7 linked regions of the Homo sapiens genome follow. The protein of the gene in region 4 purifies or fractionates together with the protein of the main gene of each other region. This does not show direct contact. Each region holds a gene or a part of one and is shown on either strand. Other genes may lie near its edges.

Region 1 (3,500 bases), on a different chromosome or scaffold from region 4:
CCGCCACCACGCCCAGCTAATTTTTTTTTGTATTTTTTTAGTGGAGACGGGGTTTCACTATGTTAGCCAGGATGGTCTCGATCTCCTGACCTCGTGATCCGCCCACCTCAGCCTCCCAAAGTGCTGGGATTACAGGTGTGAGCCACCGCGCCCGGCCTGTCTTGTGGTACTTTTTACAGGTTATTTGACTTATTCTGAGAAGTACCAGTAAATATCCTCTATACCTTTTTAAATTTAGCTAACTTCATTTCTAAGTTGTAGGGACTCTGCATTATTCAAGGGATCAATTCCCTGTCATGCTTGTTACTAGTCTTTCTTCTAGTCTGACTTTTGGCTTGGTAATGACAACATTATAATACCATTAACAGTTTGAGTGTCCTATCTTTAAGAGATTTCTGAACTCCAAGGTTAAGTACTCTAAATTGTCTTAAATGTATTAGTTTTTACATTTAGAGCCTAAGTCACCAAAATTCCTATTTCTATTGTTAGCTAACTTGGTTCTCATGCAGATGGATAACTTCTTATACCGGCATCACACACTAACTCAACTAACGCTTTTCCCAAGTCAACTGAAATGTATCTTAGACCATATTAGCAGTGTGTAGGAATACATACTCAGACCTGTTCAAGTTCCTTTGACATTCCTAGGTCCTTGTGTATTCCTTTCATACTTCCTATTTGATTATCGTGCCTTATAGTACATTAACAACAAATAGGACATATTTCGCTTCACACTATGATTCTTTTTTCAAGTTTTCTTGGGTATTCTTAGATACTTATTTTTACAAATCAACTTCAAAATCAGTTGGTCTACTTTTAAACCCCTCCCCCCTCCTTGGGATTACTCATAATAAATTGGGAAGAATAGACATTGTTCCTTTTTTTTTTTGAGACGGAGTCTTGCTCTGCCACCCAGGCTGGAGTGCAGTGGTGCAATCTTGGCTCACTGCAACCTCCACCTCCCGGGTTCAAGCAATTCTCCTGCCTCAGCCTCCAGAGTAGCTGGATTATAAGCACCCACCACCACGTCGGGCTAATTTTTGTATTTTTAGTAGAGACAGGATTTCACCATGTTGACCAGGCTGTTCTCCAACTCCTGACTTCAAGTGATCCACCCACCTCGGCCTCCCAAAGTGCTGGGATTACAGGTGAGCCACCAAGCCCGGCCTGTTCTTTCAATACAAGAAATACAGCATGCCTCTCCACATATTCAGACTTTGATGTCTTTCAATAACATCTTAACATAATTCATACCAGTCTCACAATACCATTCTTGTTAAATATATTCCTAGGAATTTAACACTTGATTACTTTGAAAGGAAATGGGTGGGAAGGAAATCCTATTTAAATGAGTTAGCATTTAGTATAGAGAAAAAATCTAGGCTGGCTTTATCCAATCACTTTATCAAATTCTCATTAATTCAAATAATTTCCTACGTAAGTTTCCTGGATTTTCTAGTATTCACATCATCTACAAATAATTAGATTTATACTGTTTTCATCTACTTTACTATCTCAGCTACCTCAAAAAATAATGTTGAAAAAGATAATAGGCATCCTCATCTTCTTCCTATTTTCAGTGGAAATGGCTTTTGCTATCTATTATATTTTCTATTTTTCTATTTACCACAACCTAAGTTTCTATTAACGTTCAGGTAGTTTCATCTCTATTGCAATTTTATTTTATTCAAGTAATTTATAATTTAACTTTTATTTTAGATTCAGGAAGTACATGTACAGATTTGTTAGATGGAAATATATATATATATATATATATATTTTTTTTTTTTTTTGGAGACAGTCTCCCTCTGTTGCCCAGGCTGGAGTGCAGTGGTGCAATCTCAGCTCACTGCAACCTCCACCTTCCGGGTTCAAGCGATTCTCCTGCCTCAGCCTTCCATGTAGCTGGAATTACAGGCACACGCCGCCACACCTGGCTAATTTTACATGGCTATACTGCATTAGTTTTTATTTAAAATGACTGCTAAATATTCTCAAATTCTTTGTCATCTGTTATTTTCCTCCTTTAAATTATTCACCTAACGAATTAAGTTGACAGATTTCTTAAAATTGAAATCTTTACACTTCTAACTAAATCCTACTTGAGCATAATATAGACTTAATTTGCCAGATTTAGCTTATTATTTTACTTGGAAATTTTGTACATATGTAAAAGCAATCTTTAGCTTTGTGTACTACTTGATTTTTACTACTAAGGTTTCTTTTTTATTATTATTATTAAGGTTTTTTTTTTTATTAAGATTTTTTTTTTTTTTTGAGACATTCTCGCTCTGCAGCCCAAGCTGGAGTTAGAATGGCCATCATTAAAAAGTCAGGAAGCAACAGATGCTGGAGAGGATGAGGAGAAATAGGAACACTTTTATACTGTTGGTGGGAGTGTAAATTAGTTCAACCATTGTAGAAGACAGCGTAGCGATTCCTCAAGGATCTAGGACTAGAAATACCATTTGACCCAGCGATCACATTACTGGGTATACATACAAAGGATTATAAGTCATTCTACTATAAAGACACATGCACACGTATATTTATTGCGGCACTATTCACAATAGCAAAGACTTGGAACCAACCCAAATGCCCATTAAGGATAGGCTGGATAAAGAAAATGTGGCACATATATGCCATGGAATACTATGCAGCCATAAAAAAGAATGAGTTCATGTCCTCTGCAAGGACATGGATGAAGCTGGAAACCATCATTCTCAGCAAACTAACACAAGAACAGAAAACCAAACACCGCATGTTCTCACTCCTAAGTGTAAGCTGAACAATGAGAACACATGGACACAGGGAGGGGAACATCACACACCGGGGCCGATCGGGGGTAGGGGGCTAGGGGAAGGATAGCATTAGGAGAAATACCTAACGCATGCAGGGCTTAAAACCTAGATGATGGGTTCATAGGTGCAGCAAACCACCATGGCACGTGTATACCTATGTAACAAACCTGTACATTCTGCACATGTACCGTAGAACTGAAAGTATAATAAAAAAAAAAAGAATTAATTTTATTTAATTCAGAGAATCTGGAGTTGGTGCTTTCCCATCATTGGTACGTGTGCACCCTAAATACAAATATACATATAACTCATATGAAGAGACAGATGATGTATTTATCTTCTCAACCAACTATACTAAAAGCTGTTTTAATAAGGCACAATTCTGATCAATAACTTATATTATTAGTTCACTTAAAACTACATTATCCAGAAAACAATTACCTGATAGCAGTCTCCTTTAAGATTGTCTAAGACATCGCCACACGTTTTTCGCATGTATTTCTTACACCCATCAATCACCATTTGGTCAATGTCCGCAACAGGTTAAGGAGAATTTGGGTATATCAAAGAATTCTGAAATAGTAATACTTTAAAGAAAGGATTAAGACAAACAAAGGTTTTATAATACTAACTTGGGTATCACAAATTTAACAAAATGATGAATGAGGCAGTGACTTTATTTTCACACTAAGGACACTC
Region 2 (4,563 bases), on a different chromosome or scaffold from region 4:
AGCCTCTGTGGCATATTCTTCAGCAAAGATATGAACCAAATCACAGGTGGATGAACACAACAACTTGGGTGCACCTCACCAGCATAATGCTGACTGAAAGAAGCCAGACACAAAAGTATTCTTACTGTCTGATAGTTGCTAGGCAAAGTCAACTAGAGTATTTTTTCTTTTATTCTTTGTTTTCATATATGTGTATATATATATATGTATATTTATTTGTTTATTTATTTATTTAATAAAGAGACTTGGTCTCACTATATTGCCCAGGATGGTCTCTAACTCCTGGCCTCAAGCATCCTTCTACTTCAACCTCCCAAAGGGTTAGGATTACAGGCATGAGCCACCCCCTGGACAATTAGAGTATTAAGTGTCAGAATAGTATTACAATTGGGAGGCATGCCATGGAAAAGACTATGTCTGCAATGCAGGGTATGGAAATGCTTTATTTGTTTGTTTGTTTGTTTGTTTTGAGATGGAGTCTTGCTCTGTCACCCAGGCTGGAGTGCAGTGGTGCAATCTCGGCTCACTGCAAACTCTGCCACCTGGGTTCATGCTATTCTGTTTCCTCAGCCTCCCCAGCTGCTGGGACTACAGGCACACGCCGCCATGCCCAGCTAATTTTTTTGTAGCTTTAGTAGAGACGGGGTTTCACTGTGTTAGCCAGGATGGTCTCGATCTCCTAACCTCGTGATCCACCCGCCTCGGCCTCCCAAAGTGCTGGGATTACAGGTGTCAGCCACCGTGCCTGGCCTACTTTTTTGTTTTTTAAGATGGAGTCGCACTCTGTCAGCCAGGCTGGAGTGCAGTGGCATGGTGTCGGCTCACCGCAATCTCCACCTCCCAGGTTCAAGTGATTCCCCCACCTCGGCCTCCCGAGTAGCTAGGATTACAGGCATGCACCACCACACCTGGCTGGTTTTTTTGGATTTTTAGTAGAGACAGGGTTTCACCCTGTTGGCCAGGCTGGTCTCAAACTCCTGACCTCAAGTGATTCGCCTACCTTGGCCTCCCAAAGTGCTGGGATTACAGGCATGAGCCACCATGCCTAGCCTGAAATACTTTTTCTTTGATGTATCCAACTGACATGCCATTATTCTTTTCCAAAGGTCATTTTTTCCAGGACACTTTCTGTCTTCATGACAGGAACATCGAGAAGCCAAGGCTAGTGGCTGGGTTACTGATGGATTACTGATGGATTCTTCTCAGGCAAGTGGAAAGCAGACCTAACTTCAAAATGTTATGCTTGTAGCCATCATCGGTAGCCTTACCTTGTTATCGTGTATTCAAGCATCTTAAAGAAATGATGGTCCTGCTCAGGAAATAACTCCCCAGGTGAATTTCTCTAGGAACCAAGCCATCTCAGGTTGTACAGAGATTGCAATGGAAGTGTATTGCGGGATCTGGCCAGCAGCCCACAGTGCAACGGGGCTCTCTCTTTGTTCCCAGGCAGATTGGCAGGTTGAGAAATAATAGACACACACAAGATAGTGAAGGCTGGGTCCAGGGGGGTCACCGCCTTCTGGTCCCACAGTGCCAACAATGCACTGGATATACCAGCAGTTATTATTAAGCTTAGTGAGGGCGGGGGTAGGTTAGTGAGGGATTTAGGGTCATTTGATTATGAGGTGAGATGGTCACATGGGGATGAAGTAATTCTTTAACATAACATTTGTATGTAGAAGTACAGTACATTTGTATGTAGAAGTACAGTATACAGAGACAAGAATTTAAAATATAGTGTGTGTGTCAGTAATTTCTAACAGAGCCTTAAAACAGAAACACAATCTTTCCATAACCTATGATTAGCAAGATATTAATCAGCAGTAACAATTGCCACAAATGCTGGTTAGAAACAATCCATGGAAACAGGATGTGAAGCTAGACAACTGGTTAGACCAGAAGTTCTCAGAAGGGAGTATGCCTTAACTTTAAAGAGGCCTACAAGAGCCGTGACAAGATGAGGGCGTTTATCCATATGGACAGGCACCCCCCATGCATCTGTTTATAGGCTCTCCACAAGGGTCGCATTCCATTCCCAGAGCTATGAACATCTGCTTTTCTGGGATAGGAATCTTGGTGATGTGAAACCTCCCTGACTGCACGTCCATTCATAGGCTCTGTGCAGGGGGAAGCACATCACACGCTGTTGGCTCATTCTGGCAGTCCAACCTGGCATTGTCTTTACACAATCCTGCATGCAATTTTGTATTTACAGTAATCAGGAGCATTTCATCTTTTATTCTGTAGCAATAGTTTCAGTGGGTCTCCCTACAGAAATGATTATTTTATCTCAATGTTTACTAATTCTTTCTGATCCTCAATCATGCTTGTTGGCTCATTGTTTTGCTGAGTGTTATGACAGATTGTAAGAAAGGGATGGAGATGTCTAATCTGAAGGAATTTGTGTGTCACTGTGGAGATAATTCATTTGTTATTAGATTTTACATAGTGCTGCAACATATTCAGTGCAGACTGCACCTATAAATAGAGGAGGACTAAGGCCAGAAGAGCCCATTGTAAAGCTGTAGGAAGATCAGTTTAGTCATGTTTCAGTGATGCTGATAAGTCCATGGGATTGGATGCCATTGCAAGACAATATCTATATAGAGGAGAAGAGGCCTGAGGCCTGGGAGTACTGCAGGCTTCTAGTCTTCCTTAGTCCTTCATGCATTTTTCTCAGAACATCAAAGGAGATGGTACTTAGCTGAAGCTGGCATGTATTTAATGGTTTAGCACTTAGTGACCTTTGAGGATGTGGCTGTGGACTTTACCCAGGAGGAGTGGACTTTGTTGGATCAAGCCCAGAGAGATCTCTACAGAGATGTGATGTTGGAGAACTACAAGAATCTCATTATACTAGGTAAAACTGGCATCATTTCTTCACTGACCCCTTTAGGAAATCAATGTTTCTTAAATGTTTGCTGTCAAATGAGGGTACTGTAATAAGCAAGACAGGCATGGACCTTGGCCAGTGGACATTCCTTTTTTTTTTTTTTTGAGACACAGTCTGGCTCTATTGCCCAGGCTGGAGTGCAGTGGCATGGTCTCTGCTTACTGCAAAGCCCCCCCTCCTGGATTCAAGTGATTCTCCTGCCTCAGCCTCCCAGGTAGCTGGGATTACAGGTGTGCACCACCATGGCCATCTAATTTTTGTATTTTTAGTGGAGACAGGGTTTCACCATGTTGGCCAGGCTGGTCTCAAACTCTGACCTCAGGTGATCCACCTGCTTTGGCCTCCCAAAGTGCTAGGATTACAGGCGTGAGCCACCATGCATGGCCTGGGCATTACTTTATAGAACAAGCTTGTAAACTTTCTTAAAGCATTATGAGATTTATGCACAGACCAGTTTTTTTGTTTATTTGTTGTAGCTCATCAGCGATCGTTAGTGTTAGTGTATTTTATATGTGGTCCAAGGCCATTCTTCTTCTTCCAGTGTGGCCCACGGAAGCCAAAAGATTGGACACCCCTGGTGTAGAGGATTCCCCATGAAAATAAAGATTTAAGTAAATGAGTTTATTTAATGTATGGATTAAAAACTTTAAGACTTTAAATGTGTATGAAGTTGGACTTGGTTTTCCAGGCTCAAGCAATTCTTCTGCCTCAACCTTCTGAGTAGCTGGGACCACAGACCTGTGCCAGCATGCCCTGCTAATTTTTGTATTTTTAGTAGAGAGGAAGTTTCACCACGTTGGCCAGGCTGGTCTTGAACTCCTAACCTCAAGTGATCTCCCTGCCTTGGCTTCCCAAAGTGCTGAGGTATGAGGCATGAGCCATTATACCTGGGCAACATTTTTGTTATTTTAAAAATAGTTTTAGTGCATGTATTGGAAATGTTATATGATTAGTTTGCTATTTGTAAAGTTACACTTGACCATCTTTAGAATCCCCGAAGGCAAAAGTATTGGTTCCCCATTGAAGGACATGGTGTTATGTCTTGCATGGGCCTCTTCTTTTGTGCATTTTTCCCTCCAGCAGGGTCTGAATTATTCAAACGTAGTCTCATGTCTGGATTGGAACAAATGGAAGAGCTGAGGACAGGAGTGACAGGAGTTCTGCAGGGTGAGTTCATAAGCAGATGTGGTATTATGGCACTGCTGTGCCACCCTAGGAGACATGCAGTACATTGGAAATGTTACTTTGCGAACTTCTCAGGGTATACTCTTCTTCCTGAGAAGGCTGAGGCCATTTGGTTTCCTTAGATACTTTCAACTCCCCTCATCTTTAAATTTCCATTGATCTTCTCAACCTCTTTTCTGTTCTCAGAAAGGTTTGTCTGCCTTATTTGAAAATTCCATCTTATGCATGTAGGTCCTTTGCCAACACCTTCTTATATTGCTTTCTTGATTCTCCCATCTTTTTGCTTACTACCAGCCTCAGTTTTCTGCATATTATTAGTTGGATAATAAGTAATACAGGTTTTTTTTTTTTTTGAGATGGAGTCTTGCACTGTCGCCCTGGCTGGTGTGCAGTGACATGATCTTGGCTTGCTGCAACCTCCACCTCCTGGGTTCAAGCAATTCTCCTGCCTCAGCCTCCCAAGTAGCTAAGATTACAGGCACCTG
Region 3 (4,563 bases), on a different chromosome or scaffold from region 4:
TTAGTGTATCCTGAGTTACGGGGGCCTGGCAGAAGAAAGACGACATGTAGCATCTGATTAGTTGACCCCTGTTCCCAGCTGACTTCCCCGGCTCACACAAGGTCTCATCCTGGGTTGTCGCTTTCTCCCTCTGCATACAGGCTCAAGAATGGGACATGGACGCCCGGCGGCCAATGCCTTTTCAGTTCCCACCCTTTCCAGATAGGGCACCTGTCTTCCCCGACCGCATGATGCGAGAGCCCCAGTTGCCCACAGCAGAGATCTCACTCTGGACTGTGGTGGCTGCCATTCAGGCTGTGGAGAGGAAGGTGGATGCCCAGGCCAGCCAGCTGCTGAACCTGGAGGGGCGCACGGGGACAGCCGAGAAGAAGCTGGCCGACTGTGAAAAGACGGCCGTGGAATTTGGGAACCACATGGAGAGCAAGTGGGCCGTGCTGGGGACCCTGCTGCAGGAGTACGGGCTGCTGCAGAGGCGGCTGGAGAACTTGGAGAACTTGCTGCGCAACAGGAACTTCTGGGTCCTGCGGCTGCCCCCGGGCAGCAAGGGGGAGGCCCCCAAGGTATGTGGTGGTCCCTGGGGCAGGGATAGAGGTGAGGAACAGCACAGGTGCATAAAATTCTTGATTTCATTTTGTCAGCCCTTCTCATAAACTTCTCTGGCTCCCCGTTATCCAATTTCAGTGTCTTCTTAAAGCCTGTCTCCACTGAAACAACCTGGTCTTGGACGTTCTACCCCAGCAAGGCTCACTCCATTCATTCCCCACAGTCTGCATTTCTGTCTGGGAGCCTTTGCTCTCGCTGTTCCTAGACCCCTCTGAGTTGTCTGGTTGTCTGCAAGTTCTTGCAGCTCTTCACTCCTTGGTTTTCCCACTTGACACCTACCAGCGATCATGTGTCATTGGCTGTCTTGGTATATGCTCACCGGAATGTGGCTGGAGTCGCACCTCAAACCAGGCTGCCTGGAGTTGCTTTCAAGTCGTAGTCACTTATCTCAGGGGGGCCCTTCTTAAAGTTCAGAATGCACACTCCGTATCTTACTCCGTTCCCTCTCCTGCTTTCCTCCCGGATCCTCAATGCTGCTTTTCAGTTCACTGAGAGAACGGAGTCACCCAGAAGAGGCGTCCACATGCAGCCAGCTTGTTCTTCCATCTGCTGCTCGGTGGCCACAGACTCTGCTTTCCCTTGTTCCTGTGGCTTGATGTCCCCTGCCCACCCCAGGAGGTCACCCCCAGCGTCTCTCTCCTTTCTCCTCTGAGTCATCAGCTCTCCCCCCTCTGCTGGGCTATTCCCACCAGCATGTGACTGTTCTGTCCTGCTGTCCGTCTTTAACAGAAAACCTCCCTGGGCCCTGCATCTACCTGCATTGGTGCCTCATTTCTCCACTCCTCTTTAGAGCAGAACCCCTTGAAAGAGTTGTCTATACTTGTTGTCTCCAATTCTTTCTTCCCCATTTTCTCTCCTTCCCTCCCTTTTCCCCTTCTCTTTATTATAGAATATTCAAATAAAAATAGACAGAATAGTATAATGGGTCCCCATGTATCCAAATTCCAGCTGCATTAGCTGCTAACTCTTGGCCAGTCTTGTTTCACCTAAATCCCTGCCCACTTCCCCACTCCCATTTTATTTTGAAGCAAACCCCAGACATTAGTCATTTCCTTTGCAAATATGTCAGTATTAGCTCAAAAGGTAAAGACTCTTTTTTTTTTAAGTGATAATCTCAATGTTATTACCACCACCACCATAGTAAAAGCTTCAGCCTAGATCACTGTCTAGCCAGTGATTAGATTTTCAGTTGTTTCAATTTTTAAAAACATTTTTTTAGTTTGAATTAGGATTCAAGTAATGTCCACACATTATGTTTGAGATGTCTCTTAAGTCTTTTTTAATCTGCGGGCATCTCTTCCATCTATTATTTTTCCTTTCAGTTTATCTGGAAGGAATTGGGCCACCTGTCCTGTTTTGCATCTCGCTGTCTGGATTCCACTGATTACGTCCCCTGTGGTCTCATTTAACATGTTCCTCTATTCTCAGTATTCCAGTTGATTGGTAACTGGATCTTTCTCTCTGGAACGCACTCTGATCAGGCCTTTGCTCACTAATGATGTCCGTGGTGTTACAGCCAGTGGTTGCTTCTCAGTCTTCATCCTCCCTGTCCTGTCAGCAGCATTGTGTGTAGGTGACCACTCTCTCCGTGAAACCCCTTGCCGTGGCTTCTGGGACACCTCTCTCTGCTGAGTCTTTTCCTACCTCACCAGCTGCTGTGTCTCATTGTTTGCCAATTTTGCCTCCTTTGGCCAGCTTTCTAATGCATGGAGTGGGCCAGACCTCTGTCTTGGCCTTTTGCTCTTTATTTACTCTCCTCCCTCATGACTGCATCCCGTCTCACAGTCTTTATTATTTATTTATTTATTTATTTTTTTTGAGACAGAGTCCCGCTCTGTTGCCCAGACTGGAGTGCAGTGACGTGATCTTGGCTCACTGCAACCTCTGCCTCCAGGGTTCAAGTGATTCTCCTGCCTCAGCTGCCCTAGTAGGTGGGATTACAGGCATCTGCCACCATGCCCACCTAATTTTTTGTATTTTTAGGGGAGACGGGGTTTCACCATGTTGGCCAGGCTGGTCTCGAACTCCTGACCTCAGGTGATCCACCTGCCTGGGCCTCCCAAAGTGCTGAGGTTACAGGCGTGAGCCACCACGCCCAGCTAGTCTCACATTATTAAAAGCAATCTGTATGCTCTCACCTCCCAAATAGATGCTTTCTCTCCCCTGCTCCCTTTCTATATGTTGCCCAGCTTTCTTTCTGGAATGCCAGATTCACATTCCTACCTATTAATTCATTTGGATGTCAGTAAATCTTAGATTTAACATGTCCAAAGTGAACTGCGGATCGCCTGCCTGAGACCTGTTCTACCTGAAGTTGTCCTCATCTCCGTTGATGACGGATGGTTCCATCCTTTCAAGTGCTCAGGCCAAAGCCTTGGAGTCATACTTGTCTCCTCTCTTTCTCACACCCTACTTCCAATCTATTAGTAAATACCCTGATTTTTCTTCAGAATATATCCACAACCTGGCCACTCCTCACCACCTCCACTCCCATCGCCATCGTCTGGTCCCAGGCACCATGGTCTTTCATCTGATTTTTGCCATGGCCTCCTGGTGGGTCTCATTGTCTTCATCCTTGTCCCCCCACCCATACAGTCTATCTCAACACAGCAGCCAGAGTGATCCTTTGAAAATGTGAAGCAGTCACATCACACCTCTGCTTAAACCTCCCAAATGGCTGGGCACGGTGGCTCACGCCCATAATCCCAGCACTTTGGAAGGCCGGGCAGGTGGGTCATGTGAGATCAGGAGTTCAAGACCAGCCTGGCCAACATGGTGAAACCCCATCTCTACTAAAAATACAAAAATTAGCTGGGCATGGTGGCAGGCACCTGTAATCCCAGCTACTCAGGAGGCTGAGGCAGGAGAATTGCTTGAACCTGGGAGGCAGAGGCTGCAGTGAGCTGAGATCTTACCACTGCACTCCAGCCTGGGTGACAGAGTGAGAATCTGTCTTAAAAAAAACCCAAAAAACACCTCCCAAATGGCTTCCCATCTGATTAGAATAAAAGCCCATGTCTGTTTATGGCCCACGCTCTCTTCCCCTGCCTCTCTGACCTCCTCTGCATCCACTCCCTCCTGCTCACTCCCATCTGTGCTGTTCTGCCAGCACACCACGTGCGCCCCCAGCTCAGGGACTCTCCACTGAGAAGCTCCTGCCCTGAATATCTGCATGGCCGTCCTCGCCACCTCTTCCATCAGGGTCTGCTGAGGTGCCACTTCATCAGCATGCCCTTCTACAACCATCCTATATGAAAGAACCACGTCCCCCAAGCACACTCGTCTCCCTGCCCTTACTCGAATTTTCTACAAAGCACTTTTGCCATTGACATCTTAAATATTTAAGATATGCTTCTTTTTTTTTTTTTTTTTTTTGAGACAGAGTCTTGCCCAGGCTGGAGGGCAGTGGTACAATCTCGGCTCACTGCAACTTCTGCCTCCCAGGTTCAAGCGATTCTCCTGCCTCAGCCTCCCGAGTAGCTGGAATAACAGGCATGTGCCACCATGCCCGGCTAATTTTTCTTTTTTTTTTTTGAGACGGAGTCTTGCTCTATTGCCCAAGCTGGAGTGCAGTGGTGCGAACTCGGCTCACTGTAAGCTCTGCCTCCCGGGTTCACACCATTCTCCGGCCTCAGCCTCCCAAGTAGCTGGGATTACAGGCACACATCACCACGCCCGGCTAATTTTTCTATTTTTTTTTAGTAGAGACGGGGTTTCACTATGTTGGTCAGGCTGGTTTCGAACTCCTGACCTCGTGATCTGCCCGCCTTGGCTTCCCAGAGTGCTGGGATTACAGGTGTGAGCCACCGCGCCTGGCCTAATTTTTGTATTTTTTAGTAGAGACAGGGTTTCACCATGTTGTCCAGGCTGGTCTCAAACTCCTGACCTCAAGTGATCCATCCGCCTCAGCCTCCCAAAGTGCTGGGATTACAGGCGTGAACCACTGCACCTGGCCTTATG
Region 4 (4,563 bases):
TCACGGCTCCTGGCAGGCGATGTTCTATGTAGGGGGCTGGCTGGGGGACAGGCAGCGGCCAGCATGGGCCCTGGGGCAGGACACAAACTCACTGCAGCTTTTCCAGGCGGCACTGGGGGTCCAGGAGTCCTTCGCAGAGCAGCTGCAGGCCCGCATCCCCCAAGAGGTTGTCGCTGAGGTGCAGCTCCTGCAGGGTGGGCAGGGTGCGTAGTGTGCTGGACAGGACCCCGCAGCCGGCCCCCGTCAGGCAGCAGTTCTGGAGGCTGGAGCATACCTGGCTGTCAGCAGGGCTCCCCTGAGCCAAGCTGCCACGCCCTTCGCCTGCCAGAGCCCAGAGCCCGGAGCAGCACTCTTCAGGCGGCAGGTCTATACCTGCTCCTTCCCTGGACGGGGCTCTGGGGTCTGGGGTCTCCAGGCCGAGTGAAGGAGGGCACGCATGTGGCTCGACCCAGGGAAACCTTGTCTGCAGACACACCTTTCAGTGGGGGTCTGTGGTGATGCTGGAAGGCTAGGGATGGCGGGCAGGGCCAGATCTTGGGTGCGGGGGCTGGGATAAGGCAGGAAGGGCCCTGTCCCCCCCGCTGTGAGACCGCCAGGCCTGTGTGCCTCTGGCTGATGTTGGAAATGTCTGCTGCCACTGCCTGTCCACCTGCAGCTGCCCACGCGCCCCTGGCGGCTCTGTCCCCTGCTGCCGGGCTACCAAAGCAGACTGCACCAGGCCAGAGGCAGTGCCAGGCCCCGCCTCACCTCAGCTTCTGGATCTTGCAGGAGGGGGTCTGCAGGCCCTGGAGCACGCAATGCACGCCGACATCGCCCAGCTCGTTGCTGCGCAGGTTGAGCTCTGCCAGTGCAGGGTTGACTCGAAGTGCAGAGCTGATGTCCTTGCACCGTGCTTCCGTGAGGCCACAGTCGTCCAGCCTGTGAGCAGACCCCAGGGTCATGTGGACCACGCAGACAGCACTGGCCTCAGCCTCCACCACCACCCCACGTGCAGGTTACAACCTATCAGTGGGCCCAGAAGACAGCAAGGCAAGTCACACAAGACATTTCAGAAATGAAACAAAAAGGAGGAACTGTTCCATGAAAGTTTTGTTTAAGATGCTCGCACGTGGCCAGGCGCGGTGGCTCACGCCTGTAATCCCAGCACTTTGGGAGGCCGAGGCAGGCAGATCACCTGAGGTCGGGAGTTCAAGACCAACCTGACCAACATGGAGAAACCCCGTCTTTACTAAAAATACAAAAGTAGCCGGGCGTGGTGGCGCATGCCCATAATCCCAGCTACTCGGGAGGCTGAGGCAGGAGGATCACTTGAGCCCAGGAGGTTGAGGCCGCATAAGCCATGAGGGAGCCACTCCAGCCTGGGTGACAGAGCAATGCCCTGTCTCTAAAAATAAAAAGAATTTAAAGTATCTCTCGAAGGCACTGATCAGTCACAGGAGGAAAGGCAGTGGCGTCACAGTGGAGAGGGTGGCAGACGGCGCCTGTGACAGGACGCTCCTGGCAGGCCCCACGGCATCTCCCTGCATTCCTGCCAAAACTGTAGGACTTCAACCACAAGAAACCACCAGACAAGCCCCAACAGAGGACGTCCTGCAGGAGCCTGGCCAGACCCTCAGACCACCAAGAACCCAGAGAGACGAGGGGACAGTCACAGACGGGAGAGGGCTAAGGAGACAGAGGGCTGAGGGCCACGCAATCCTGGACCAGTGAGGAAGACGAAAAGGGCAGGGCGGAAAAGCAGACCCTGCCTGGAGGTGCTGGGCCAGAGCTAGCGTCCGCAGGTACACAGGACCACCTCACCAGGGAGCCCCGTCCGGTCCTCGTAACTCCTCCGCAAACCTGACACTACTTGAAATCACCAGGTAAAAAGAGAAAAGATGCGGCCCACCCAGGCACTCGTGTCCTGCTTGTGAAGCTGCTGGGTTTGTGAGGACCTCGAGGGCCGAGGACTCCCAGCCCCCAGCTTGGCAGGGACAAGCAGCGCCCCATGGAGGCTCACGGAGGGGACCCAAGCTGTGTCCTGCCCTCGTGTCTCCAAGGGAGGGAGAGGAGCTGAGACACCGGAGCCAGAGACCCACTGGCCAGTGGCCGCCCACCTCGGCCCGCCCACCTCAGCCCATGCTGCATGAGCCTGGAATGGGTTTTACATTCCTAAATTGTCAAAAAGAAACACAAGAATCACATCTCATGCACGTGGTAGCTGCACAGAATTCATACTTCATGTCCACAAACAAGGCGTTCCAGAGCAATGCACCCTTCAGAGGGAGCCGCCACCCGCCAGCCTGCCCCACCAGCACCCCAAGGCCACCCCGAGAGCAAGCGTACCTGACCACTTGGCACTGCTGGAGCAGAGGGAGGAGCTCGGCCCATCTAGCGTCGCTCAGCTCCTCACACTGGATGTCCAGGCTCTGGATGTCCAGGCTCATGGTGGAGGTGAAGAGTGGCCTGGGTGGGAGGCAGAGGGAAGAGGACGTCTTGGCCGAATCCCCTCACAGTTTCACAGGCCGGAGATTCTGCAAACAGGACCCACAGGGCTGATGTTTCAGGAGGAGCCGCAGCCTCTCCCTGGGCAAACACTTCCTCTTCAGCACCCTCCCCACCTTTGTCTCTGGAGCAGACATCAGGGGTGGGGCAGGGGGCAGGGACCAGCACCCACCCCCAGAAAGGCCACCATGGGCAGCAGAGCTTGGGTAATGCAGATGCCAGCCCATCTCCTGGCTATCACCACCCAGCCTCTGTGGGCACCTCCTCCTGCCCCACAGAGGGCGGGACAGCAGCAGCCCGGGAAGCCCCTGCCTCTCATTTGCTTGGGCAAGGACAGGGTAGGGTGGGGTGGTCTGTGAGCCTGGAGGCCCCAGCAGGGGAGCAAGGGGGTCTGTGGGCTTGACCTGTGTCTCACCCTCAGGACAGGCAGACTGTGCGGGCCAGGCAGGCTGCCCACAAAGCCAGAGACCTCCCAGGATGCCAGGATCCTGGACCCGGCCACAGTGTCCGAAGCAAGACAGAGCAGGGGGGCGGCCACTTGGGGTGTCAGCTTCCATGGCCCCCTTCTGGGGTTGGGGACTCTGCACCAGGCTACAGCACATCCCCTGCCCCACGGCACACTAGCCCAGAGGCTGGGCTACCAGGCAAGCTGGGTGGGTCAGCCTGGGATGGGCACAGCTGCTACACCCTGAAGCCTCCCCAGGCACAGGCCCTGAATATGGAAGGAGGTTCCTGAGGCCCTGAGAGCACAGCTCAGGTACCCGCCAGGGGCCTGGGGAAAGTGGTCAGGCAGAGACAGCCACCCCAAACCTTGGTTGGTGGATACATTCCCTGAGCACCTGCCAAGCACTGGCCTGGGGACTACAGCAGGGCAGGAACCTGGAGAGGAGGCTTGGATGGCCAGGAAGGCTCCCTGGAAGCAGCAGCACTGATGCCACAATGCGGGGAGGGGTGGGTGGGGTGGGGAGAGGGCTCTCATCCAGAAGCCCCAGAAAGTTGGCAGGATCCACTTGGGGAAATGATGCAACCCCAGCTGCCCTTCAGAAAGACGGCCAACAGGACCGCTTGAGAGGCTCCTGGTGCCCTGACACCCCCAGCTTCCTGAGTCTGTGTGCCTGGCACTCCTCTCCCCGGGGCTGCTTCAGAGGCGGCTGGTCCACTCTGCATGAGTGGAGGCAAGAGGCCCCTGGTACCAACTGGGAGGAAAGACGCAAGGCTGGGCTCGGGTCCACACGCCTGGGCGCCCGGCCTGCAAGGACAGTGGCAAAGGGTGGTGACATCCCACGGCCCCACATGGAGGAACTGAATCCAACCGACCCGAAGCACGTGAGCAAAACCGACCAGGGTGTGGTCACCCAAATTCTGACTCCAGAATCTAGTCATCAGGAGGCACTGTGGGCGGGAGGGCGGGTGGAAGGAGAGCCTCAGGGGGCTGCCCAGGGTGCACACGCTCCCCAAATCCAGCCTGACACTCCTGTGTCCTCTGCAGCCAGATGAAAGGTGGCCCCAGGGTGTCCTCCTCCTGGGAAAGCTTGGTGGGAGCTCAGGGTGGCCAGTGCTCCCGTGACCATCTGCAACTAGCGCTGCGGGAGTAGCCCCGTCCCTACCCCTCAGGCTTGGCCAGACCCTGTTGTATCCCAGAAAGGCCCTTCTGAATCTCTGTGGGTCACGGATCCCACTGAGGACCCCATGAAAATGCGGGAGTAAACGCCCTTCTCTGTGACTGGAGAAGTCCCTGGCTCCCTACACAGCCAAAGCTAAAAGCACATTCAGGAACCCACTACCACCAGCTGGCAGCCTGCTTTGGTTGAGGCAGGGATCTGAACAGAGGCCCTAACGGTCCCTTATCCGGAGACCAGACTTTCTCAACCTTACGGAGGGAGGTCTCCGCAGCACCCAAGGCCTGGGCCCCACCCTGGGGAGCCACATGGGAGGGGCCGTCTGGAGGCCAATTCAGGTCCTTATGTTCCGACGTGACGGGGGCGCGGGGCCACCCTCTAGGGAGACACGGGCCACGCTCAGGCGACGCGCAAAAGTTCCCGGTCCCTGGGACCCCCGCCCGCGCCCGCGTCGAGTCCC
Region 5 (4,563 bases), on a different chromosome or scaffold from region 4:
ATTTTTGTAGAGACGGGGTTTCACCACGTTAGCCAGGATGGTCTTGATCTCCTGACCTCGTGATCCGCCCGCCTTGGCCTCCCAAAGTGCTGGGATTACAGGCGTGAGCCACCGTGCCCGGCCCAGCTGTTAATATTTCTAACTTAGATAACCATTTTAAGACTATAGAAGACTTTACATAAAACTTTATAGTTCCATTGAAATACAGAATAGTCATTTCACATGTTCATTCCAATTCCATTTAGCAAAAACTACTTTGTATCTACAAAGTGTCAGGAACTGTGCTAAGCCCTGGTGATGAATACAGTTCCTGAACTTTACATTGGATGAAATTGTATAAAGACAGTGTTTATTTTACTTTAAAGGCCCAGAACTCTTCTGGTTGATAGTAAAACTGGTTATTGGGTTTATCTTATTAATATAACAAAATGATAGTTTTAGTTTACCACTCAGAACCTGATAAAATCAGGAAGACAGAAGAAAAGCAATTAATGTAGCAGGAATTCTTAACCCTAGAATTATTTTTTCCTAAAAGCTAACTTGGCTTTAAAAAAAAAAAAAAAAAAAAAAAAAAAAAAGCTAACTTGGCTTTTAGGTTTTCCACAAGACCCAATGGGTTTTGTATCCTTTCAGTCCACAGGATTACTACCAGAAGGACGTGTTCACTGCACTGTAGTCAGTGGTGATTGCTGTGCCTTTTCACAGTTACTTAAGGATAGGTTTTGGGATTTTTTTTTTTAGCAGCTTTATTGAGATACAATTTCCATAATATGAAATTGACCTGTTTTAAGTATGTAATTCAATGAATTTTAGTATGTTTACAGAATTGTACAACCATCACCATATACTAATATTAGAACATTTAGAACACCTAAAAAGAAACCTTACACCTGTTCATAATCACCCCTTATTCCCACCTCCACCCCAGGCAACCATTTTTCAATTTGTCTTTTATAGACACTCCATAAATAGAATTATAAATTATGTGGTCCTTTGTCTAGTTTATTTTACTTAGTGTGATTTTGAGGTTCAACCATGTAACATGTTATTTATTCCTTTGTATCACTGAATAGTACTCCACTGGGTGGATATTCCACAAATACGGATATTCCCTTTTCTTATTTTTAATCCAAAGAGGTTTTTTGGCCCAGTGTGGTGGCTCACCCCTGTAATCCCAGCACTTTGGGAGGCCGAGGCAGGCGGATCACCTGAGGCCAAGAGTTCAAGACCAGCCTGGCCAACATGGTGAAACCCTGCCTCTACTAAAAATATAAAAATTAGAATGGGCATGGTGGCAAGCACCTATACTCCCAGCTACTCAGGAGGCTGAGGCAGGAGAATCACTTGAACCCAGAAGGAGGAGGTTGCAGTCAGCTGAAGTCGCACCACTGCACTCCAGCCTGGGTGACAGAGTAAGACTCTGTCTTTATGCAGTGGCTCATGCCTGTAATCCCAGCACTTTGGGAGGCTGAGGCGGGTGGATCACCTGAGGTCAGGAGTTCAAGACCAGCCTGGCCAACATGGTGAAATCCCGTCTCAACTAAAAATACAAAAATTAGCTGGGCGTGGTGGCAGGCATCTGTATCTCAGCTACTGGGGAGGATGAGGCAGGAGAATTGTTTGGGGGGTACGGGGGGAGATAGGTTTTTGATACAGGGAACCATCTCTTTACCAGCCCCCCCAAATAAGACCCTCTTATTAAGACTACCTAAATAGAAGTATCATGGGTTTGGCAGTAAAGCTAGTTAATTAGTAACTTACATTGTAAAAAATATTTTTGTGATTTAAAATAATAAGTTTTAATATCTTATATAGACTTGCTGTTAACTACTGAAAGATTTTTTTAAAATTTCATTTCTAGGTAAGACCATTGCAATTGGAAAAGTTCTGAAACTGGTTCCAGAGAAAGACTAAGCATTTTCTTGATGACCCTGCACAATACTGTGAGGAAAATTGACTGCAGAAGCCTACTTCACACCGCCTTCTCTTATTTTCTGCCCATTGATAAACCTCTCCCCATATTTTGCAAAGAGGAAATTCACAGCAAAAGTCCACATTATGTCAGCTTTCTCATATTGAGAGCTCTGCTATGCCACTGTTGAATTTTTCCCAAGATTCCTGTCCCTAGCCCTCACTTCAAACTCTGCTTCCTTGGACAGATTTGGCAATAGCTTTGTAAGTGATGTGGACATAATTGCCTACAATAATGAAAACCTACAGGAATTTTTTTATTTTTCATTTTCCCCTTAGGCATATTTAGTATTTTTCCCCCAGGCAGATCATTCTGAGTGTGCGAGTGTGTGTGCACATGTTACAAAGGCAACTACCATGTTAATAAAATATTCAATTTGAAATCCTTTTCGGTATTTGAATTGCTTTTGAATAATGTTTTTTATCTGGATGTAACATTGTTGCATTAGCTTTTTAACTTTCCCAAGTAATTGAATACATTTTATTACTTGGACTTTTATAAACTCTTTCCCTACCCACTATAAATGAGACATTCACAGCGTTCAAGTTTGTATTAAAGGAAAGGATTAGTTTGACCCCTTCTTTTGATGGTTAATGCATACATGCAGTTAAATCCCTTTATGCAAATGTGACACTGCTTTACTAGGTCTTTTAGTTATTTATTTATTTTTTTTTTTTTTGCCAATTTATATTGTAACATGATTTCTTGAACACAGTAAGTTGTTTTAAAATAAAAGAACAGCATACTGTAGTTTTTATAAGTAAAGCGTAATGAAATTGTACCCCTAGAGAAAATTCCATTAACTTGTTAAATTAGTGGAATTAACAACAAATAAAGCATGTTTGAGACCTGGCAAAAATTCCTCTGGTAGTATTTATAAATAGAGCTGCATGCCTCTAGTATGAAAACCGTATCAGTTGCAAGTGCCACTTCTACAAGTTACTCAGTTTACTCTTTGTATCAGTAACTTTAAAGGTTGGATGATCCTTGCTGGTTAAAGCTAAATCTCAACCTAGCAACTAAATGAAAATATTTAGAATCATCAGAATCTGAACAGACTAAAATTATCAGCGATAAGCAGAATCAAGCAGGGTATAAGTTTTATCTCAATTATTTGAAATTGACTGAGTTTTCTTAAGTGTAAAGCTGAAATTTGCTAACCATGTTTTTGATGAACCACAGTGCAGCATTGTGTGGGTTTTAGATTGAATGACTCTCTGCTATAATTATCATGACTTTGAAATTTTTCATGAGAATAAATGAGGAATGGAGGCAATTTGTGGGTTTATCCAAAGCCCCCTTGATGTTGAGTGTTGCCATTGATCAAAGATAGCCTCTTTTAGATTGTGATTTCTCTCTAAATAAGATACTTTGTATATTTAATGACAAGTCTCTTCCCTATAATTTTGCTCCTCAGAAAAGAAAAGCCTAGACAGACTGTATTTCCAGTCACAGAACATAAAACTTAATCTAATGGGTGTTTTGTTTTGTTTTGAGACAGAGGCTCACTCTGTCACCTAGGCTGGAGTGCAGTGGCTCGATCTCAGCTCACTGCAGCCTCCACCTCCCGGATTCAAGCAATTTCCTGCCTCAGCCTCTTGAGTAGCTGGGATTACAGGAGCCCTCCACGAGGCCCAGTTAATTTTTGTATCTTTAGTGGAGACGAGGTTTCCCCCTATTGGTCAGGCTGGTCTCAAACTTCTGACCTCAAGTGATCCACTCGCCTCAGCCTCTCAAAAGTGCTGGGATTACAGGCATGAGGCGCCGCACTTGGCCTAGTGTTTTCTTAACTGTGAAATTCCCATTCATTTCTTGAATGAGGCTACATCTTATGGACAGAGCAAAGTTATTGTCCTACAGATTCTTAAAACTATAATTATGGCTATTGCATGAAATTTAAATAGATTTTATTATGTCTGCAAATCTCTGGGCTTTTATTTTTCTGGAAAATATAGGAGCTTTAATCAAAACATAATAGTTCTTTTTGTAATTCCATGTTAATAAAAACAAATACTAGCAATTGCTTGAATTTTAATGAATATTTAAAAGTTCAAGAGCCACGGAAATCACTTCCAGAGATAAGAGTTCCCTTTCTAAATAGAACACATTTTTAAAAAATAAGTTATGTTTGCTACTAAAACATTTACACTGTTAGACTATTATGTGCATGTTGCCAAGACTCTTAAGTAACTTGGATATCAACTGTGAAGGGCCTACCTCTAAAAAGTAACAGGTCATACAAATACAAATGTAACTGTAAAAATTCCACTGGATTCTTGCATATTTGCAAGATTAGATTATTCAAAAGAAATTTCAGTGCTAAAATTAACCAGCAACATAAGTTCTATGGGCTTTGAAAATTGTTCTCATCTTTTTAAAGTTGATGCATTTTCAATCCTGCTTACACAGGCTGTTCATTTGGATAAGTAAATAAAATGTCTAAGGTGAACTTGGCATTATGTGGAGATGTTGGACCGTTATAGAGCAATACAAATTCCTATGCTGTCATTCTGTTTTCTGCAAATGCAAACGTGCTTATATGGTCAACAGTGCAAAAATAGGGTAGTTGGCTGCATATTTAGGGTATTACC
Region 6 (4,563 bases), on a different chromosome or scaffold from region 4:
TAAGTACTACAAATGTTTTTTAAGTGCTACATTCTTGTAGCTTGTTACATGCATGATTATCTTCTATCCTAACTTTTTTCTTTTTGAGACGGAGTTTCACTCTTCTTGCCCAGGCTGGAGTGCAGTGGCGCGATCTTGGCTCACTGCAGCCTCCGCCTCCCAGGTTCAAGTGATTCTCCTGCCTCAGCCTCCCAAGTAGCTGAGATTACAGGCATGCGCCACCACGTCCGGCTAATTTTTTATTTTTAGAAGAGACGGGGTTTCTCCATGGTGGTCAGGCTGGTCTCGAACTCCTGACCTCAAGTGATCCACCCACCTCGGCCTCCCAAAGTGCTGGGATTACAGGTGTGAGCCACTGCACCCAGCCTATTCTAACTTCAGAGGTTATGTACATTTTAAGGGTTTGGGTGTATATTACTAAACATCTCTCTATTTATGCTTGCTTTAATGGCAAATTTCAGAAGGCTTGTTATCAACTTTTGCCAGGCTGGGTATTGCCACTTAAAACAAAAACAAAAATACATACAAACCAAAAACCTGCCAATTTGATTGATGAAAAATGATGTCTCATTGATGTTTTTATTTGCTTTATTTACTTTATTTTATTTTATTTTTTTGATACAGTCTCACTCTGTTGCCCAGGCTGGAGTGCAGTGGCGCGATCTCGGCTCACTGCAAGCTTCACCTCACGGGTTCACGCCATTCTCCTGCCTCAGCTTCCCAAGTAGCTGGGACTACAGGCGCCTGCCACCACACCCAGCTAATTTTTTTCTTTTTTTTGTATTTTTAGTAGAGACGGGGTTTCACCATGTTAGCCAGGATGGTCTCAATCTCCTGACCTCATGATCCACCCACCTCGGCCTCCTGAAGTGCTGGGATTACAGGCATGAGCCACCGTACCCGACCTATTTTTATTTTTGAGATAGAGTCTTGCTCTGTTGCCGAGGCTGAAGTGCAGTGGCGTGATCTCAGCTCACTGCAACCTCTGCCCCCTGGGCTCAAGTGATTCTCCCTCCTCAGCCTGAGTAGCTGAGACTACAGGCACATGCCACCATGCTGGTCTAATTTTTGTGTTATATTATAGAGATGGGCTTTCACCATGTTATCCAGGCTGGTCTTGAACTCCTGTGCTCAGGTAATCCGCCCGCCTCAGCCTCCCAAAGTGCTGGGATTACAGGCGTGAGCCACCGTGCCTGGCCTCAGTGATGTTTTTAACTGTGCATTTTTTTTAATGAGAATTTGAAAATAGGCTTATAACATCATTTTTGTCAAAGGATGGTTTTGATTATATTGAAATTTGGTTTTAAACATTAATAGCACTAAAATCTTTTTATTAATAAGAACTTATGAAATCCATTCCTACTTTTTTCCTTGACATTTTAGTTGTATCATGGATTTAGAACCCAATGAGTAATGTTTAAAGTTAATGTATGGTCATTTTTGTTTTATCTTCTTTTCTGTCACCTGTTTTCCTGCTCTCTGATTCCTGTGCATGCAAAGCAGAAGGCCTCAGGTGATTCAGCTCGACCAGTTCTTCTACAAGTTGCAGAGTCGGCCTACAGGTTTGGTCTGGGTTCTGTTGCTGGAGGTTAGTCATGGATGAGAGAAAAATTTTCACTTTTGTTATTCCTATTCTCTTTTCTCTGATTTTCCATCTTGAAATGTTAAAGGACAAAGTCTTCTCTAGTCTTTCCCAATGCCAGTTATCAGTTTCTACCTGTGAGGTAGGGCAAGAGTAAAGGGAACTCTTTTCCCATACCTGCATGTGATCAGGGACTTACAAGTGGCATTTTCCTCTATCTACAGATCAGGCCTTCCAAAGACAGGTTACTAATGAGGTTGGGCTGTAGCAATGTGCCTTAATTTAAAATATCTATGACATCCTTTTATTAGGGGATACTTGAATGAAAACCCTCAATTGTTTATTAAAGATATAAGAAAGGTAGTACTGTTTTAAAATCTGTATTTAAAATTCAAAACACATTTCTTTTCTCAGTCTTGTCCTTGACTTTAACTACCTTCTTCTTTCTTCTGACCTATCTTACTTTCTTCTGAGATAATGATATTGTTTAATTTTAGCTGTTGGAGCCACTGCTGTGTATCCTATCGATCTTGTAAAAACTCGAATGCAGAACCAACGATCAACTGGCTCTTTTGTGGGAGAACTCATGTATAAAAACAGCTTTGACTGTTTTAAGAAAGTGCTACGCTATGAAGGCTTCTTTGGACTGTATAGAGGTTAGTGCCACATGCTCAATACCTGTTAGGTGAAATAACACTCAAAGGTTTGGTTTCTCATCTTAGTGCCTGACATGAATTAGCAAGACTGCGTTAAAATGGAAATACAGCAGATTTTCAATTATCCATGCTAATGGGAGTAGGCTGGAGGCATCTAGGGCTTGGCTAATCAAAACAGCCCATAATCTGAAAATTATTTATAGTGCTCTGTTGTATGTTTTATTTCTTAAAATAATAAATTATTTTTATAAGCATCTTCCGTGAATTTTTGAAAGGCTCACATTGTTTGCATCCTTGAAGTACTCTATTCTCCAGCTAACAGGGAAAGGTATTCTGCCACCAGGACAAAGCCTACTCAGGATTCATGATTTTCCTGGAATACACCACAAAAAAGATAACGAAGGGTTCAGTAGAGCTCTCTTTTGCTGCTTCATCCTGAATTAAAGTTGCCCCTTTTCTTCATCTGACTCTCAACCCAATGGAGTTGATTCACACACCCCTCTAGCCAAGGTTTCCCCCCACTGAGACAGCCTGAAACAGGTAATCCTTCTTTCTCCACCTTTTCCTTTAACCATCTAAGGTTCATTAAGCAATGGAAGTAGTAGCAGAGAGTATGTCATCACTGATGGAAAGGATCCCACAGACCCTGACTGCTTTTCCACTGGCATTGGCCGAAGGAGACTTCTCAACTGTTCTTTCGGGGATTGCCTTCTACGAGAAGGAAACAGTGTTTCTGCATCAGTTAAAATACAGTATCACAAGGCAGTTCAAACTCAGCTGCTTTATAATTTGGCAGCGGCAAAGCTGGCAGAGTTTTCCCTCCTCTCCCCTACTAATGCTCTCTCTAGATGAAGAAAACAGTATTTAGTACTCTGCTGAGGTGGACGGTGAAACTGGCAGACATGGAAACCTGTGCCTCTGGGCCTCTTCTGCCATCTGCTGACTCTAGTCTTCAAATTAATTACCCCAGTTAAAAAAAACAAAAAGGATAAACCTTTCTTGAAACCTCTCACCTTAGAAGCCAGAAAGTCTCAAACTCCAGAGAAGTTCCATTTTGCAGGTCCTATTGTGTAGGTAGGTAGCCCCCATCAAAGGCCTTTTGATCTTTGCTCTGCCCTCTTTTCCTTATCCCCTGCCTCTTCTTACAATTTGGAAGGTCTTTGACCTCAGGTGATTGATGATGACCCTTTCAGGGTCACTGCCTTCCATTTGAAATGCTTTTCTTCCCTGATGGCAACAACTTTGCAAATGAAATGGCTTCCAAGTAGTACAAGGTTAATGTCACAGTTCCTATTCTGCAGTGAGTCAGGCAAAATTGGCCGCCTTACCTGTCCATATGGGTGGTTTTTGGAAGGGAAATCTCGAGTCTCAAGTCTGGGCAGACATCTGAGCATTGCTTCATAAACTACTTTTTGGGCTTTTCTTGGTATTAGATTAAATGTCAAGGATGCCTTTAGAATTGTAAGAATGCTTCCCAACACTGCTCAGTGTCTTTAATTTGCTTAAGTTGATTTTTTATTTTGAGTCCTTTTTTCTCGATCTTTGACCATACCTGGCAGGTCTGATTTTTGGTTACGTCTATATTTCCCTTTTGCAACCTGTACTGTTGGCAACTAGAAGTGTGCCTGAGTACTGAGTGCTGAGCTAATGTGGGCTATGCAAAGAGGCTTCCACTCTTGCCGTTTCAGTTCTTTTATCTGTAAGATGAGAGTGACTGCTTTTAACTTCTCAGAGGAGTAGTAAGTCAATATATTAGGTACAGACAGAGGCTCACTGTAAACACCCAAGTGGCAGCTCTTCACCCTTTTCCTGGTTTAGAAATGGCCATTTATCTTTGGGTGCCCCAACCTTAAGGGCAAGAGACAGAGCTGTCTGTCAGGATGATGAGTAGAGTGTGAATATAAGATTAGTTCTAGGAGTCACCTGTGTTCATTTCTTCCTGATATCTTTTCTGGTAAACCATTTTAAAACAAAAAATTTACTGTAAAATTTTTGTTTAGTCCCATTCTGTAATTTGGATCATCTTGAGAGCAAAATGATGACTGACAGTTCAGGTTAAAATAATAATGATACATAACTTTGCCATGAAAATGACTTGTTCCTATTCTTGATTGGTCAGGGATCAGTTCTCTTTAGTTTCTTGTACATCATCAATAATTAATAATTGTATATAACTGCATATTTGTAAGTGCTTATTGGGTAAGAGAGATCAGATGAAAATGTAGGTAACTCATGGTTATTGTTGTTAATTTAAAAAATTACAATATAAGTAAAAAAGACCTGACATATTTCTGAGACTCAGTATTATCACCTTTATGTACAAAG
Region 7 (4,238 bases), on a different chromosome or scaffold from region 4:
CATGAAGTATTGTTTCTTTTAATATTTATTTTTTAAATTTTAATTATTATTATTATTATTTTTTGAGATGCAGTCTCACTCTGTCGCCTAGGCTGGAGTGCAGTGGCACAATCTGAGTTCACTGCAACCTCCGCCTCCCAGGCTCAAGCAATTCTCCTGCCTCTGCCTCCTGAGTAGCTGGGATTAACAGGCGCCTACCACCAAGCCTGGCTACTTTTTGTATTTTTAGTAGGGACAGGGTTTCCCCATGTTAGCCAGGCTTGTCTCGAACTCCTGACCTCAAGTGATCCGCCTGCCTCGGCCTCCTAAAGTGCTGGGATTACAGGCGTGAGCCAATGCACCCGGCCAACTTATGTTTCAATTAATTTTCGTTAGTCGTAAGTTTTTAAAACAATAAAGGTAGTGGAGATACTGATTTTTTTTTCCTTTTAGGTTTCAAGAGGAGCTTTGCTTTAGGCTTGTTAAGCATAGGGTGGTTGAAGTATCATTTGTGTGGCACGACTTAGGTATTGGTATTTTCTTTTACCATTGTTCACTTAAGAAGTTTTCAAAGAGTAATATTCACAAGTTAATGAGGACATTAACAAACAAACAGTGAAGATGTTCATCAGTTAATTAATTTATCAGCAACTTGGGTATTTCTTTGATTCTAAAATGTACTTTCCCTCCCCCACATTTCACCGTCGTCTATTTATTTTCTTAATGATGGATCTCAGATGAAGTGGTACATAAAGTTCCTTGCTAGGCATTTGTAAGATTCAGGTCTAGGTCATTTGTGTGAGTCTCAGTAAGAAAGAGGAGAGATCTGGCCAAAGAAAGCTCATTTTCCTGTTTTCAGTCAGGAGGATCTCTCACATTGGTTATTGATCAAAAACTAGGACTGAATCAGAGTTTGACATTTTCTTTCTTTGTGAATCATTATTTTATTAATGATGTTTAAAATTTAGGAGCAAAAAAGGCATTTCCAACAATTCAATTACAGATGCCATTTTATTCAGCTTTTTCTGTCAAACTGAATTGTTCATTCCAAATCCTTGCTTTTAGAGAAGAGCTGAGTGTGTAGGAAAAAAAGAGGGACCACTTGAAGTCTGTTGCAAGAGAAATAGAGATCAAAGTTCACAACATACAAAGAATTTATTTATGCAATACAGGCCTTTTCTCAAATATTTTTCACAGAATTCCACACAGTAATCTACTAGAAAAGTAGAATTATACACCACCAAATAACATTGTTTCGTTTCTTAGTACAAATTGCTAATCAAAAGGAAGGTGGAGATGATAGTTTAATAACAAATAGTAAAACAGGTGTTGCTGAATACAGCACCCGGTAGCCTCTATTTGCAAACCCGGGGAGGGAAGGGGGTGCCCCAACAAAACAACAGTGGCTCCGCCTCATTGTCCAGGCACAGGCAAACCGCAGTAGTGAGCTTTGGTACTTGCATTTACTTTAAAAGAAAAACAAATGTTGTGAGCTCAAGAGCATTTCCATCATTTCGTTTTGTTGTGCTATGAAGATGACAGATCAGGAAAAAATGGTAACTATTTCACACTTGCTATAAATTAGATTCCTTGTGCTAACCACACAATAAAATAGCCTCCCCCAAACCATACTTTTCTAGGTCTAAAACATGCTTGAAGAACAATATTGATAGACAGACTTAATTGAGATGTTTTAAATTACATTTACCATAATTTAAACATTACTATTTAAATCCCAGAAATATTAGTGCTGAAGAAGCACAGTTGTTTGGAAAAATACAGGACCCAAATTACAGCATCAAATTTTCCTATTCCAATATTGTAACCCACTTCCCCACTGTGAAAATCCTATTTCTCAAGCTTGTAGATGCATGGGAAATGTTCTTCATAATATTATAGCTGGAATAAGTGGTTTACTTGCTCCACTGTATGTTTCCATAATTGGTGAAAATAGACTTCTCATTATGACTAAAAATATAGATTTTTTAAAACTACAGAACCCAGCAGCCAGTTTTCTGCTTTGCTAATCCCCCCCAAAAAAGTCAAGCAAAGACTACAAAAATAGCAATTATTAATAACTTTAAAAAATATTTTGCTTCTTTGAGCAAATTTAAGTTACATTCAGATGTGGTAGAAGAGAATGATGCTCCAGGTACTTCTGCTCATCCTAGGGGCAGAGTTGATGTACAGCTGTCACCATCAGTAGCGGGTTTGGTATTCATGATGCCACCGGTTAAAGTCGTTGTAAAATAGCACAATGCTTCCTGAAGCCATGCCAGAAATGATGCACCTAGGAGAAGCACAGAGAGAAGGACTTTTACAAACCTGTGTGTCCTAGAGATGTTACTAAAAACTGCTCTCCCCAAATCCACAAGGTAAATATAGAAGCTGGCAGTGAAGGCTCCAATTTGTGGGAACTAAGGTATGTATTTCATGACTAAAATGTATCCCTGAGTAAGCTCAGAGTACTGCCTCTGACACTCCACAAGGATCCAAGCCACAGCTTGCTTTTTCATTGAAAGGGTACGGACAGCTGGTATGTGCAGGATGAGTAACTAAAATCTGAACAGATTTGTAACTAAAATCTGAACAGATTTGGTAATTTCTAAAGGGGGACTGGGCTGGCAAGACCCATCCATTATATAAGCAACAGACTCAAAAGAAGGAACCACAATCTCAAAGTAACTGCTGGTGGAAAGAAGCAGCACACACTCAAGTGACAAGAGACACCACCTCTGACAGGTACAGAATCAATGAAGAGTGAAAAAGAAGAGTGTTGTTGACCATAATTTAAGCTGGTCTCCCCTCTGTGGAGAAGTAGTCTATGTCCATCATGCTCTGGGTGAGGACCTAGTCCTCGTAACACAGTAACTCACCGAAATCACTGAAGATAAGAACTTCTGCAAGCTTCTTGGTCTCCTGTCCCCAAAGAGGTGGTGCAGGGAAAGAGATGGAGAACATAGGTGAACCTAAACTGAGCATAGCCAGATTTTTCTCTGTGTAGTTTGGTTAGGACCAGCCCTTAGAAGCCATATTCAGTATCCTTCCTAGTACCTCGTATCAAAATTAATTAGGAACTAAAATGTGTCACTACAAAAAAAATCAACTAAAAACAAAGGAAGACAGTAAGGAGGAAATGAGAGACAAAACTCTAAGGCAGAGAGAAAATTAAATAGAAAAGTGGCAAAAGTCAGTCTTTCCTTATCAGTCATTAAAGAGATTAAATTCTCCAGCCAAAAGGAAGAGATTGGCAGAATGGATAAAAAACATGATCCAACTATATGCTGTCTACAGGAGACCCACTTGAGATCTAAAGACAAACATCTTGAAAGTGAAAGGATGGAAAAGATATTCCGTGTAAGTACTAGCAAAGAGAGCTGAGGTGGCTTACACTAATATCAGACAAAATAGTCTTTCAGTCAAAAACTGTTACAAGAGACAAAGGACACTACACTGAGAAAAGGGTAAATTCACAGAAATATAACAATTATATATGCATTTATCATCAGACCCCCAAGATACAAAGAGCAAATATTAACAGAATTGAAGGGAGAAATGGTTCTACAGTAATAGTTTTAGACGTCAATACCCCACTTTCAATAATGGGTGGAACAACCAGGTGGAAGATAAGGAAACAGGACACTTGAACAATACGATAAGCCAACTGGACCTGACACACGTATATAGAACACCTTCCCAACAACAATAGAATATACATTTTTTTGCAGTGCGCATGGAATAGTCTCCAAGATAAACCATATGTTAGGCCACAAGTGTTAATGACTTAGTAAAGATTAAAATCACAAAGTAGCTTTTCTGATCATAATAGAATGAAACTAGGTACCAATAACTGAAGGTAAACTAGAAAATTCACAAATATGTGGAAAGTAAATAAATGATGAGTCAAAAAAAACAAACAACAACATAAGAGACATCAGAAAATACTGAGACAAATGAAAAGGAAATACAACAAGCCAAAACTTATGAAATGCAGCAAAAGCAATGCTAAAATGGAAATTTTTAGCTGTAAACACATAGATTTAAAAATATCTCAAATCAATAACCTAACTTTACCTCTTAAGGAACTAGAAAACAGACAAAACCCCAGGCTAGGCAGAAGGAAGAAAATAATAAAGAACAGAGTAGAGAGAAATAAAGCAGAAAATAGTAAAATGATTGATAGGAAAAAACCCAAAAATTGGTTCTTTGAAAAAATAACAAAATTGACAAACCTCTAGCTAGACTAAGATGACTTGGCT

Evidence for each region.
Region 1: the proteins of RNH1 (region 4) and SMS fractionate together in Homo sapiens (co-fractionation; one large-scale study listed by BioGRID). This does not show direct contact.
Region 2: the proteins of RNH1 (region 4) and ZNF846 purify together in Homo sapiens (co-immunoprecipitation; one large-scale study listed by IntAct). This does not show direct contact.
Region 3: the proteins of RNH1 (region 4) and ZNF282 purify together in Homo sapiens (affinity purification with mass spectrometry; one large-scale study listed by BioGRID and IntAct). This does not show direct contact.
Region 5: the proteins of RNH1 (region 4) and GSPT1 fractionate together in Homo sapiens (co-fractionation; one large-scale study listed by BioGRID). This does not show direct contact.
Region 6: the proteins of RNH1 (region 4) and SLC25A13 purify together in Homo sapiens (co-immunoprecipitation; one study listed by IntAct). This does not show direct contact.
Region 7: the proteins of RNH1 (region 4) and LRBA fractionate together in Homo sapiens (co-fractionation; one large-scale study listed by BioGRID). This does not show direct contact.

The regions. Positions count from the first base shown.
Region 1 is NC_000023.11:21,978,709-21,982,208, reverse strand, and holds part of SMS (spermine synthase), read right to left. Parts: intron 3,333-3,500; coding exon 3,243-3,332; intron 1-3,242. UniProt on the Homo sapiens protein: Catalyzes the production of spermine from spermidine and decarboxylated S-adenosylmethionine (dcSAM).
Region 2 is NC_000019.10:9,761,579-9,766,141, reverse strand, and holds part of ZNF846 (zinc finger protein 846), read left to right. Parts: intron 1-1,106; 5' UTR 1,107-1,191; coding exon 1,192-1,206; exon of another isoform or gene 1,207-1,332; intron 1,333-2,680; exon of another isoform or gene 2,681-2,733; coding exon 2,734-2,860; intron 2,861-3,973; coding exon 3,974-4,060; intron 4,061-4,563. UniProt on the Homo sapiens protein: May be involved in transcriptional regulation.
Region 3 is NC_000007.14:149,198,193-149,202,755, forward strand, and holds part of ZNF282 (zinc finger protein 282), read left to right. Parts: intron 1-140; coding exon 141-560; intron 561-4,563.
Region 4 is NC_000011.10:499,737-504,299, forward strand, and holds part of RNH1 (ribonuclease inhibitor), read right to left. Parts: intron 2,514-4,563; 5' UTR 2,427-2,513; coding exon 2,326-2,426; intron 919-2,325; coding exon 748-918; intron 264-747; coding exon 93-263; intron 1-92. UniProt on the Homo sapiens protein: Ribonuclease inhibitor which inhibits RNASE1, RNASE2 and angiogenin (ANG). May play a role in redox homeostasis. Required to inhibit the cytotoxic tRNA ribonuclease activity of ANG in the cytoplasm in absence of stress.
Region 5 is NC_000016.10:11,870,470-11,875,032, reverse strand, and holds part of GSPT1 (eukaryotic peptide chain release factor GTP-binding subunit ERF3A), read left to right. Parts: intron 1-1,861; coding exon 1,862-1,914; 3' UTR 1,915-4,563. UniProt on the Homo sapiens protein: GTPase component of the eRF1-eRF3-GTP ternary complex, a ternary complex that mediates translation termination in response to the termination codons UAA, UAG and UGA.
Region 6 is NC_000007.14:96,181,952-96,186,514, reverse strand, and holds part of SLC25A13 (electrogenic aspartate/glutamate antiporter SLC25A13, mitochondrial), read left to right. Parts: intron 1-1,500; coding exon of another isoform or gene 1,501-1,503; coding exon 1,504-1,588; intron 1,589-2,079; coding exon 2,080-2,238; intron 2,239-4,563. UniProt on the Homo sapiens protein: Mitochondrial electrogenic aspartate/glutamate antiporter that favors efflux of aspartate and entry of glutamate and proton within the mitochondria as part of the malate-aspartate shuttle.
Region 7 is NC_000004.12:150,263,544-150,267,781, forward strand, and holds the end of LRBA (lipopolysaccharide-responsive and beige-like anchor protein), read right to left. Parts: intron 2,270-4,238; coding exon 2,179-2,269; 3' UTR 892-2,178; downstream 1-891. UniProt on the Homo sapiens protein: Involved in coupling signal transduction and vesicle trafficking to enable polarized secretion and/or membrane deposition of immune effector molecules. Involved in phagophore growth during mitophagy by regulating ATG9A trafficking to mitochondria.